Linked DNA regions of Homo sapiens. The protein of the gene in region 1 purifies or fractionates together with the protein of each later gene. This does not show direct contact. Each region holds a gene or a part of one and is shown on either strand. Other genes may lie near its edges. The genes, in order: ARFGEF2, NUP88 and ZDHHC11.

Evidence for each region.
Region 2: the proteins of ARFGEF2 (region 1) and NUP88 fractionate together in Homo sapiens (co-fractionation; one large-scale study listed by BioGRID). This does not show direct contact.
Region 3: the proteins of ARFGEF2 (region 1) and ZDHHC11 purify together in Homo sapiens (co-immunoprecipitation; one large-scale study listed by IntAct). This does not show direct contact.

What each region holds. Positions count from the first base shown.
Region 1 is NC_000020.11:48,924,555-48,928,210, forward strand, and holds part of ARFGEF2 (brefeldin A-inhibited guanine nucleotide-exchange protein 2), read left to right. Parts: intron 1-3,656. UniProt on the Homo sapiens protein: Promotes guanine-nucleotide exchange on ARF1 and ARF3 and to a lower extent on ARF5 and ARF6. Promotes the activation of ARF1/ARF5/ARF6 through replacement of GDP with GTP. Involved in the regulation of Golgi vesicular transport.
Region 2 is NC_000017.11:5,384,299-5,386,619, reverse strand, and holds the end of NUP88 (nuclear pore complex protein Nup88), read left to right. Parts: intron 1-279; exon of another isoform or gene 280-350; coding exon 351-414; 3' UTR 415-1,787; downstream 1,788-2,321. UniProt on the Homo sapiens protein: Component of nuclear pore complex.
Region 3 is NC_000005.10:840,832-844,487, reverse strand, and holds part of ZDHHC11 (palmitoyltransferase ZDHHC11), read left to right. Parts: intron 1-763; coding exon 764-888; intron 889-1,813; coding exon of another isoform or gene 1,814-1,991; exon of another isoform or gene 1,992-2,795; coding exon of another isoform or gene 2,796-2,805; exon of another isoform or gene 2,806-3,643; coding exon of another isoform or gene 3,644-3,656. UniProt on the Homo sapiens protein: Endoplasmic reticulum-localized palmitoyltransferase that could catalyze the addition of palmitate onto various protein substrates and be involved in a variety of cellular processes.

The DNA.
Region 1 (3,656 bases):
AGGAGCAGCTATGTGGTATTTTAGAGATTACCATGTATAGATTGTTGTTAATTGTGATAAGAGGAACTGTAAATGACGGCTCAAAGTTGAAATGCTTGGATGATAGAGAGCATTTACAGGAAACAGCTTCTGTGATATGATTCCACCAGCTGTAGCATATTAGGGGAGAGGATCAGGGCTGCAGGGACTGTATAGTGTAGATGTTAGCTAGGAGTGTATTCTTTGGGACCCTAGACTTCTGTGTTCAAACCTCCTGCCTTCCACTTGCTACGTTTGTGATCTTGGACAAGTTACTTCCTTATAGGATTATTGTAAAGATTAAGTTAATTGACATGTGCAAAAAACTTGGCATGTAGTAGGTGCTCAGTAAATGCTTGCTATTACTTTTTTATTATTATTATTTTAAGCTGTGACAAACCACAGCAGCTGTAATTACTCTGGTTTGATGTTCTTAACCTTAGTTCCTCGTTCAGGAATGACTTACTGCTCTATTTGGTTTGTAGATGCAGTAAATAAGAATGTAATTACGTGATTGAAAGGCTGTGTTGGAGTATTAACTTCCTAAACTCAATGAAGACAGGGGTTGTCCTTTGTAAAAATTGTGATAATCATGATGGAGCAGATTTGGAGTAATCTCAATGATTCGTCCGCACTATACACCAAAAGCATAAATAGGGACTGCCCAAGTAGGGGATAGTGCCCTTCCAACCTTTATCTGGAGAAATCAAGACAGCCTGTGAGAGTATTCATCGCCCCAAGGATACTGTTGCTCTTTACCTTGTTATGAAACTTTGATATATATTAATAATCTTCAACCTTTCAGCCCTCTGTTGGAGAATATAATTACATTCTTAAACCTCCCTTTTATAATTGTCTTATTTAAGACTCATCTTCTCCCATCATGTATCTTTAAGTTATGTTTCTGCTCTTAAACTATATGAAGTTTGGAGGCTTAATAGGATAATCTATTTAAAATTCGATATGGAAAAATTTATCTATGGCTGGGCACTGTGGTTCATGCCTGTAATTCCAGCGCTTTAGGAGGCCAAGGTGGGCAGATTGCATGAGCCCAGGAGTTTGAGACCAGCCTGTGCAACATGGCAAAACCCCATCTCTAAAAAAATATATAAAAATTAGCTGGGTGTGGTAGTGCATGCCTGTAGTCCCGGCTACTTGGGAGGCTGAGGTGGGAGGATGACTTGAACCTAGGAAATGGAGGTTGCAGTGAGTTGAGATCATGCCATTGCACTCCAGCCGAGACAGCAGGGTGAGACCCTCACACAAAAGTGCTAAGTAATGGCTAGGTGCTCTATAATTACTAGTTGTCATTATTCTCAGCCATTATCAAGAAAATTTAAAAAGAATAGTAAACATACGTATTTTCATATGAAATTGAATGACTTTTAAAGATCACATGTTGTATTATATCTCCTATGTACTAAGCATTTCTGAGTTCCAGGCACAGTAAAGTGGGCTTTTCATGCAATTTAGTTCTCACTATTATCATCATTCCCACTGAGGCCCAGAGAAGTTAAGTTGGCCAGGGTAACTCAGTAAGTGATGGAACCAGGGTATAAACACAGGCAATCTGGCTCCATAGTCCAAGATCTTAACTATTACTACCATGTTTTCTTGCTTCTCCATATGAAAGTTGTTATGTTTGAAATACTCAGTAGAGTTTTTAAAACAATCAGTATACCGCAGTGGAGTTTCAGGAGACTGTATTTTCTATAGCTGAATTTTGAGATATGTTTGAAAGCCTTGAGTCAAAAAGATCACAGCTCTTTTCTTCAGGTTTTTACTACATATATACTAGGTTTACTTTAATTAGGGGCTAATGGAAAGAAGGAAATGAGAGTAAAGAGCTGGTTACACATAAGTTTCATTTGAGTTATTCAGTTTTTCTTTTTTTTTTTTGAGACAGGATCTTGCTCTGTGGCCCAGGCTGGAGTGCAGTGGTGGGGTGCGATCTCAGGTCACTGCAACCTCTCCATCCCTGGCTCAGGTGATCCTCCCATTTCAGCCTCCCAAGTAGCTAGGACTACAGGGGCGTACCACCCACCTGGCTAATTTTTCTGTTTTTAGTAGAGACGGGGTTTTTCTGTTGTCTGGGCTGGAGTTAATCAGTTTTTCTAATTGATGATATCTCTTCATCAGCAGTAAACTCCCTCTTATTAATTCTGGAGTTGTGACCTGTTATTAATTCTGGATTGTGATTCATTTCTTTGGGTACAGCAGGCAATGGGAGACCAAGGCTAAGGAAGAGAGCAACTTGCCCATCCACATCCACACAGCTGGGTGGGGAAACGTAGCTGCAGCACATGATGTAGCTTCACATAGATCATAACATCCATTCTTAGATTTGCTCCTCTGTTTAATATACGAGATTTAGGATGTGGATGGGTCATTGGTGACCTTAGCTTGAGCTTTTTTGATGCTGTGATGGAGGTGAAAGCCAGACTGGCATGGGTTGAGGCGTGGGAGGTGAGGAAACAGATGGTGAGCATAGTCAGCTCTCCCAAAGTTTGGTTGTGTTGTAAAGAGGAAGAAGGAGTGGCTCCTGGGAGTTGTTTGTTTATTTAAAGGTAGAAAAGATTTTAACTTTAAATATTGTTAAGGGATCCAGTTAAGGAAGTATATTCCTAAATCTTAGTTGTATATGAATGTGTGTAAGACATACAAATGGGCATTTATCATATGGACATCTGTGTGTCCATATGATACATAAATTGCTTTTTCTTCCATATGATCCTTTTATTCTAATTTTGATGTGTTCAGAAAAACCATTCTCATCATGAGGATTACTGTGAAACTTGAAAAATATAAAAAACATCTCTAAATTGATGTAACGTGGCGGGGCATGGTGGCTCACGCCTGTAATCTCAGTACTTTGGGAGGTCGAGGCGGGCGGCTCAGTTGAGGCCAGGGGTTCAAGACTAGCCTGGCCAAAATGGCGAAACCCCATCTGTACTAAAATACAAAAATTAGCTGGGCGTGGTGGCGCACACCCGTAATCCCAGCTACTTGGGAGGCTGAGGCAGGAGAATTGCTTGAACCCGGGAGGTGGAGGTTGCAGTGAGCCAAGATGGCGCCACTGCACTCCAGCCTTGGCAACAGAGCGAGACTCTGTCTCAAAAAAAAAAAAATTAAAAAATAAATAAATAAATTGACATAACAAGACTTTAAATTGAAATGCAGAATAAAGCCTTTAATTTTAGCAAATTCTAGTGTTTTGATGAGACATTTCGTTTATAAGTGCTATGTATCATAAAAATTTTGAGAAATAACAGGACTCAGGACCCTGGAAGATTACTTTTTGTTGAAAACCACTGTGGATTCTTCAGGAGGAGGTTATCTGTCTGGAAGCAGCATCAAAAAACTGGATTGTTCTTGATTATTGAAAAGCATTTATATGTAGGATTGGCAGAGAGTTGATTGAGACTTTGAAAGTTTGATTTGCTTATTGATAGTCCAGTGATCCCTCTTTGGGCCGCAGTTTCCCAAGGTGATAAAGATAGTAATACCTTTGTCACAGGATTATTGCAAAGGTTAAATGGACTAGTGCAGTAAGTAACTGGCACAGTACCTGGCACCTAACAGATGACCTGCTGAAATTCAGAGGCATTGGTGTTGCAATCTTTTTTTTTTTTTTTTTT
Region 2 (2,321 bases), on another chromosome or scaffold:
ATCTTGGTATTTGCATGTCAAGTAATTACTGGGATGAGAGCCACATGATACATAGGGACTTAAGAAATGACTATGGTGGGAGGATTGAAAGGGATGACCTTCTAGTAACATGATTTTGTTGTGTGGCCAAAGGTATTTTACAGTAATTATGTTCAAAAATATTTCCAGTACTTGCACCGTTTGCCACCTTAAATGAATAGTGAACACTATTGCTATCCACCTGAAACCTTCAGCTGTTAATTTTAGCAAAGCAGTTCTTAGATGTTTCAACATTACCAGTTTAAATTCTTAAGAATCCATATAAATGGTTTATTATAATTCCAAAAGTGAGTGACTTTACAATTTTACAGGGGTGAACATATAAGGGAAATGGTGAAGCAAATCAATGATATCCGCAATCATGTAAACTTCTGACACCACCAGGAGCTGACTCACACCTGAACTGAACACCATTGAAGGCTTAAACCCATATTGTAAAACAGGTAGAATTATCTAATTTATAAAAAGGTGTTTTGATGACCTTTGGTGTGGTTCATCTTTTTAAATATGTTGTTTTATAATAATTGAGTAAATGCTTTTATTTAAAATTTGGAATGTGCTTTATAACTCAAGCCTACAGTTGTGTTCAGCAAGGACTCAGGATTATTTCACACTGCACACTGCCAGAACCTCCCTGAACCCTATTGAGTTTTCTCCATATTTGAGCAAGTTAGTTATTCTTGTGAGCTGTGTTTTAAAGTAGCAGCACCAGAAACATGACTCTGAAGAGGGATAGAACCCTAGGATTCAAAGGAGAAGACCACACAGTGTACTTGGCAGCAGCTTTTTTAATTTGAACACTTTCTTCTTGAGGACACACCTTCAGTACAGTTAACAAATGGTTACACCTGAAATCTGCTGAGAGCAGAGCTCAAGATCCACAATTGCAAAGGCCACTGCTGGCTCACTTCCTCACAAGCTGTATTACCTTTCAGAGCTGAGTGAGGCTGTGCTCTACGTCCCAATACTTGTTACTGAGTGGACATGAGGTGCAAGTTTAGCACCTTAAAGGGAGAAAAAAATAGGTTAGTATGCAGAATGTGATTTTGTCCTCACTTCACCTTAAGTCATCTTTTTACACTTGCCAATGTGAGTTCTGAAAGGTACTACTATATCTGCTTAGAAATGGCTGAGTGACTGTCAATTAAAAGCCACATGATAAGGTAGGTTACAGGTAAGAGGTAAATCAGGTTAGACATGCATGAGAACATGTAGGCACAGACTGAATATAAGCACAGGAACACTCGTGAAACCCAACTGAGCTTTTCTTTTGCCTAGAAGGGCTAAATCCTGCCTTCTACATCAGTTCCCATTTATGCTGAAAACCCAGTTGAAAGAATTGTTTCCTACCTGGACAGTGACACAGTAGTTTGTTTCATACCAGAAACACATTGCTAAACAAAACTTAAGAGTCTCAGTTTGGGTTTTTCTACAATAAAGTGAATTCCAACAGTTGGCATTTGCCACAGTAGAGACCACTAACCATTCCCTAATTGTGATGATTTTATTACCCAGCACCATCTTCTGGAGAAAAATATCTGTAAGGTGCTCAGTCTCAGCAGAACACTTCACTGCAAGCTCTAGTTCAGTCAGTTCAGAAAGGCTGTGAATTGCCCACCCTGATTTACAGCACTAATTTTAATAATCTGAAGACAAATTCGCTTGGGGCTTATCCAAGGGACTAGTCTTAAACCTACGTAATTTAAATTGATTGCATTTTATAATTAATAAAATCCCCTGTAACTCAATAGTTATATGTTTCCTTTATCTAAACCATGTAGCACTCTTTATAAAGGGACTTTAAACCAATTAAAATAATGTTTCATGTGCGGCAAGCCTTTAGTACTATTTCCATAATTGGTATTTATTTTTAAATTCATAACCATGAATGCAAGACTACAATAATAACCCAAGAGATGAGGTATGTAGTACTTATCATTTGTCCTATGGAAGACAGAAGTACAGAAGATCTTTAGGGTAAGTCCATAGTGACCTCATTTATAACAAAGACAATTCACTTTAAGTTGATGGTGGCGTTATGTGAACAAAACAATCTACCTAGTTCACTAACTCCCAGAAGGCTCTTTCAGGTACCCTGCTGTTATGCAACCAGTCTCAAAAATGATTTGAAAACCATCTTACTTTTGAACCTCCTGGATGATGAATCCATCCACTGGATATTCCTGGGACAGTACTCTCAGCAGGTATTGATGAACATGAATCAATTCTTTGTGCTTTCTGTAGCACTTCATAAAGTTATGGCAAAGACCTGTTTCACTGAG
Region 3 (3,656 bases), on another chromosome or scaffold:
GTGGAGTCGGGAGGTGCGGGCAGAGGCCCCAGAGCTGTGACACTGGAGACGCCGTGTGACCCTCATGCTCCGCTGGTAGGCTTGGGCGAGTCGCACCGCATCTCTGACCTCACTTTCCCCACTCGTGAAAAGGGCTGGTTCCCCCTCCTCACAACCTCCTTGTTCCTTGTGGGGATTAAAGGCAATCACGTTTGCAAGAAGCGCTGCCTGAATTGTCGGGCGGTGTGCTGGTGGGAATGTCCCACGGCCACCCCTCTCCAGCGAGAGGCCTGGAGACCTGGGGGGGCGTCACAGGACGGCACAGAGACAGGAGCCTGAGCTTCCAGGCGCGGTCGGGAGCAGGGTTTGAGGCCAGCGTTGGGCGGTGGCCAGGCGCCCTCAAGTGGACGCCCACACTGACCTGTCACCTCCACCCTGCGGGCTCCAGATGCCCTGCGCGTCCCCACCCCTGCGCCCCCCACACCTGCCCTGCATGCCCCCGCCCCTGCCCCAGATGCCCTGCGTGTCCCTGCCCCTGCCTCTGCACCCCCCACCTGCCCTGCATGCCCCCGCCCCTGCCTCAGATGCCCTGCGTGTCCCTGCCCCTGCCTCCCCGCCCCCACACCTGTCCCACATGCCCCGCATGCCCCTGCCGCTGTGCCCCCCACGCCCGCCCCTGCCCACCCCGTGCACACCCCCTGCCCCCGTGCCCCCCACACCTGCCCCTGCGCCCCCACTGCTCCCACGTCCCCACCCCCATGCCTGCCTGTGTGTCTCCCGGCAGGTTCTTCTTCAGCACTGTGGCCTCGGCCACAGCTGGCATGCTCTGCCTGATCGCCATCCTGCTGTATGTCCTCGTCCAGTACCTCGTGAACCCCGGGGTGCTCCGCACGGACCCCAGGTATGAAGGTACGTGGCCGCCGCTCTCAAGGGGCCTCATCCTCGCCTCCAGCCGTCTTTCCGGGTGGTAGTATCGGGTCTGGGGTGGTCGGCCCCTCTTGTCCCAGGGAGAGGCCGGGGCAGGCAGCCCCATGCAGGCTCTGACCTGGCCCGACGGCAGCAGCCCAGTGTTCATACAGCCCAGCAGCCCCCAGCGCGCGGGAGGCAGGCTCGGGGAGGGCGCTGGCCACGCTGCTCTGTAGATGCTGCCAGGTCGTGTCAGGCGAGAGACAGTGGGGTCCACCTCTGCCCCTGCCCTCCGCAGTCATCCCTGTAGCACCTGTCACACCATCCTGTGGGGCCATGTAGTTGTGGGAGGGTGGGGGTGCCCATCCTGCAGGAGCAGCCCATGGGGAGGGAGAGTGGAGGCAGCGCTGAGGGTGCTGGGCTGTAGGCTGCGGTGCGCTGAGGCCCTTGGCCAAGTGGGCCCGGAGCCTGGGCCTCGGGAACCGATGCTCACACTGAGCCACTGGAGAGACGTGGCGGTGAGGACTGTGGGCTCCAGAGGCGAGTCCACGCCTAACCCAGATCCCGTGATGCCAGCATCCTCGGGAAATGGGCCTGTGGCTGTGACTTAATATCTGAGGTGGGAGGGTCGTGCTGGGATGTCCCAGGGGGCCCAAATCCAGCCACGAGTGTGCTTGTAAGAGAAAGGAGAGACACAGAGGGGAGGTGGCCTCGTGAGGATGGAGGCAGGGGTGGAGTCACACAGCCACAGCCCGGGGTCGCCGGGAGCCACAGGAGCTGGCAAAATTGGGAAGACCTCCCTGGACCCTGCGGAGGCAGCGTGCCCAACTGTCCTGCAGCTGGACGTCAGAGCCCTGCCTGCCTCAGACTGCAAGAGTCTGCTGGAGAAGCTGCCCCCACCCGCCACCATTTGATGTATTTATTGCAGCAGCGCCAGGACCCTGACCAGGAGGACCTGGGCCAGAGAAGCCCCTCGGGGTGCAGGACAAGACTGCCAGTCTCAGCCCCAGGCATGGCTGCACCCGCACTGCACACAGCCCGGGTGGCGAGACAGGGAGGACTTGCCTGCCCTTGTTCCAGAACATTCCGGAGCCAACACGGTGTGACATTTTTTTCAAGGATGAGCTTTGCCAGCTCCACGTGGAAGTCCCTAAAGCTCCTCCTTCCACTTCGAAGCGTGACTGATGCCTCCAGGGCCTCACAGCCGCTTCTGAAGCACTTCCTGAAAGCCAGCTCCACCCTGGCGAGGCCCTGACCTCAGCGGACCCAAGCCCAGGACGATGCCTGTTGCGTTCTTCTCCCCCAGTAGCAAGTCACCTTCCCCAGCAGCCTCCATGTTGTCTGGGCTCTCCCTGTGGGGGATGCCAGGGGAGAGTGAGAGAGCAGAGGTGGCCAAGATGGCATGTGCTGCCTTCTCTCCTGGAACATGCTGCTTCCACAGGGCAGTGCCAGTGTCTCCGTGTGAATTCATTGATTGTGGCCTGAGTGAATTCCTGGGTTTGCTGTTCCAGATGATTCTGCAGGGCTTCAAAACCAGCAAGGCCCTGAGCAAAGCTGCTCCTTCTTCTCATGGGCTGAACTCATCGTGATGTCACTGGCTAAGGGGGGCAGCATGGGGTCCAGCCCGGCCCAGGCACATGGAGCTGCGGTCCTGTCAGGCTGAGTGTGGTGTTTGCCTTCTAGGATGGCCCCGAGGCCACCAGTTCCAGAGAGGGTCTGTCACCGAAAGACATCCATGCTGAGTCACCCAAAGACATCCATGCTGAATCCATCCCTCTGCCATTCTGCCTTGCCCCACCCTCTGCCATTCTGCCTTGCCTGGCCCTCTGCCATTCTGCATTACGCCTGATTTTTGGAAGTGTGGTTTTGAGTGTTGGCAGCCCAGTGTCACAGAGGACCATATCTTAGAAATGACCCCAGGCGAGAGCTGTGGCTTTCCTGTTCTATTTGAAGGCAGCTGTTTTAGGGTGCAGCGGGTCCAGGGACACAGAGTGGGCCATGAGCAAGGGATGGGTGCTGGGGCCTGGCAGAGCTGGCAGGCTCTGTGACCCCGGCACTTAGGAAGGGGTGGGCACCGTGACCCTGGCACTAAATAAGGAAGGGATGGGTGCTGTGACCCTGGCACTTAGTGAGGAAGGGGTGGGCACTGTGACCCCGGCACTTAGTGAGGAAGGGGTGGGCACTGTGACCCCGGCACTTAGTGAGGAAGGGGTGGGCACTGTGACCCTGGCACTTAGTGAGGAAGGGGTGGGCACTGTGACCCCGGCACTTAGTAAGGAAGGGGTGGGCACTGTGACCCTGGCACTTAGTAAGGAAGGGGTGGGTGCTGGGGCCCTGGCACTTAGGAAAGGATGGGTGCTGGGGCCCGGCAGAGCCGGCAGGCACTGTGACCCCAGCACTTAGGAAGGGGTGGGTGCTGTGACCCCGGCACTTAGGAAGGGGTGGGCACTGTGACCCTGGCACTAAATAAGGAAGGGATGGGTGCTGTGACCCTGGCACTTAGTGAGGAAGGGGTGGGCACTGTGACCCCGGCACTTAGTGAGGAAGGGGTGGGCACTGTGACCCCGGCACTTAGTGAGGAAGGGGGGTGGGCGCTGTGACCCCGGCACTTAGGAAGGGGTGGGCGCTGTGACCCTGGCTCTTAGTGAGCAAGGGGTGGGCGCTGTGACCCCAGCACTTAGGAAGGGGTGGGCACTGTGACCCCGGCACTTAGTGACAATGTTGGAGCCTCACCTCCCAGATCCATAAAGCAGGGATCATGAAAACCAACC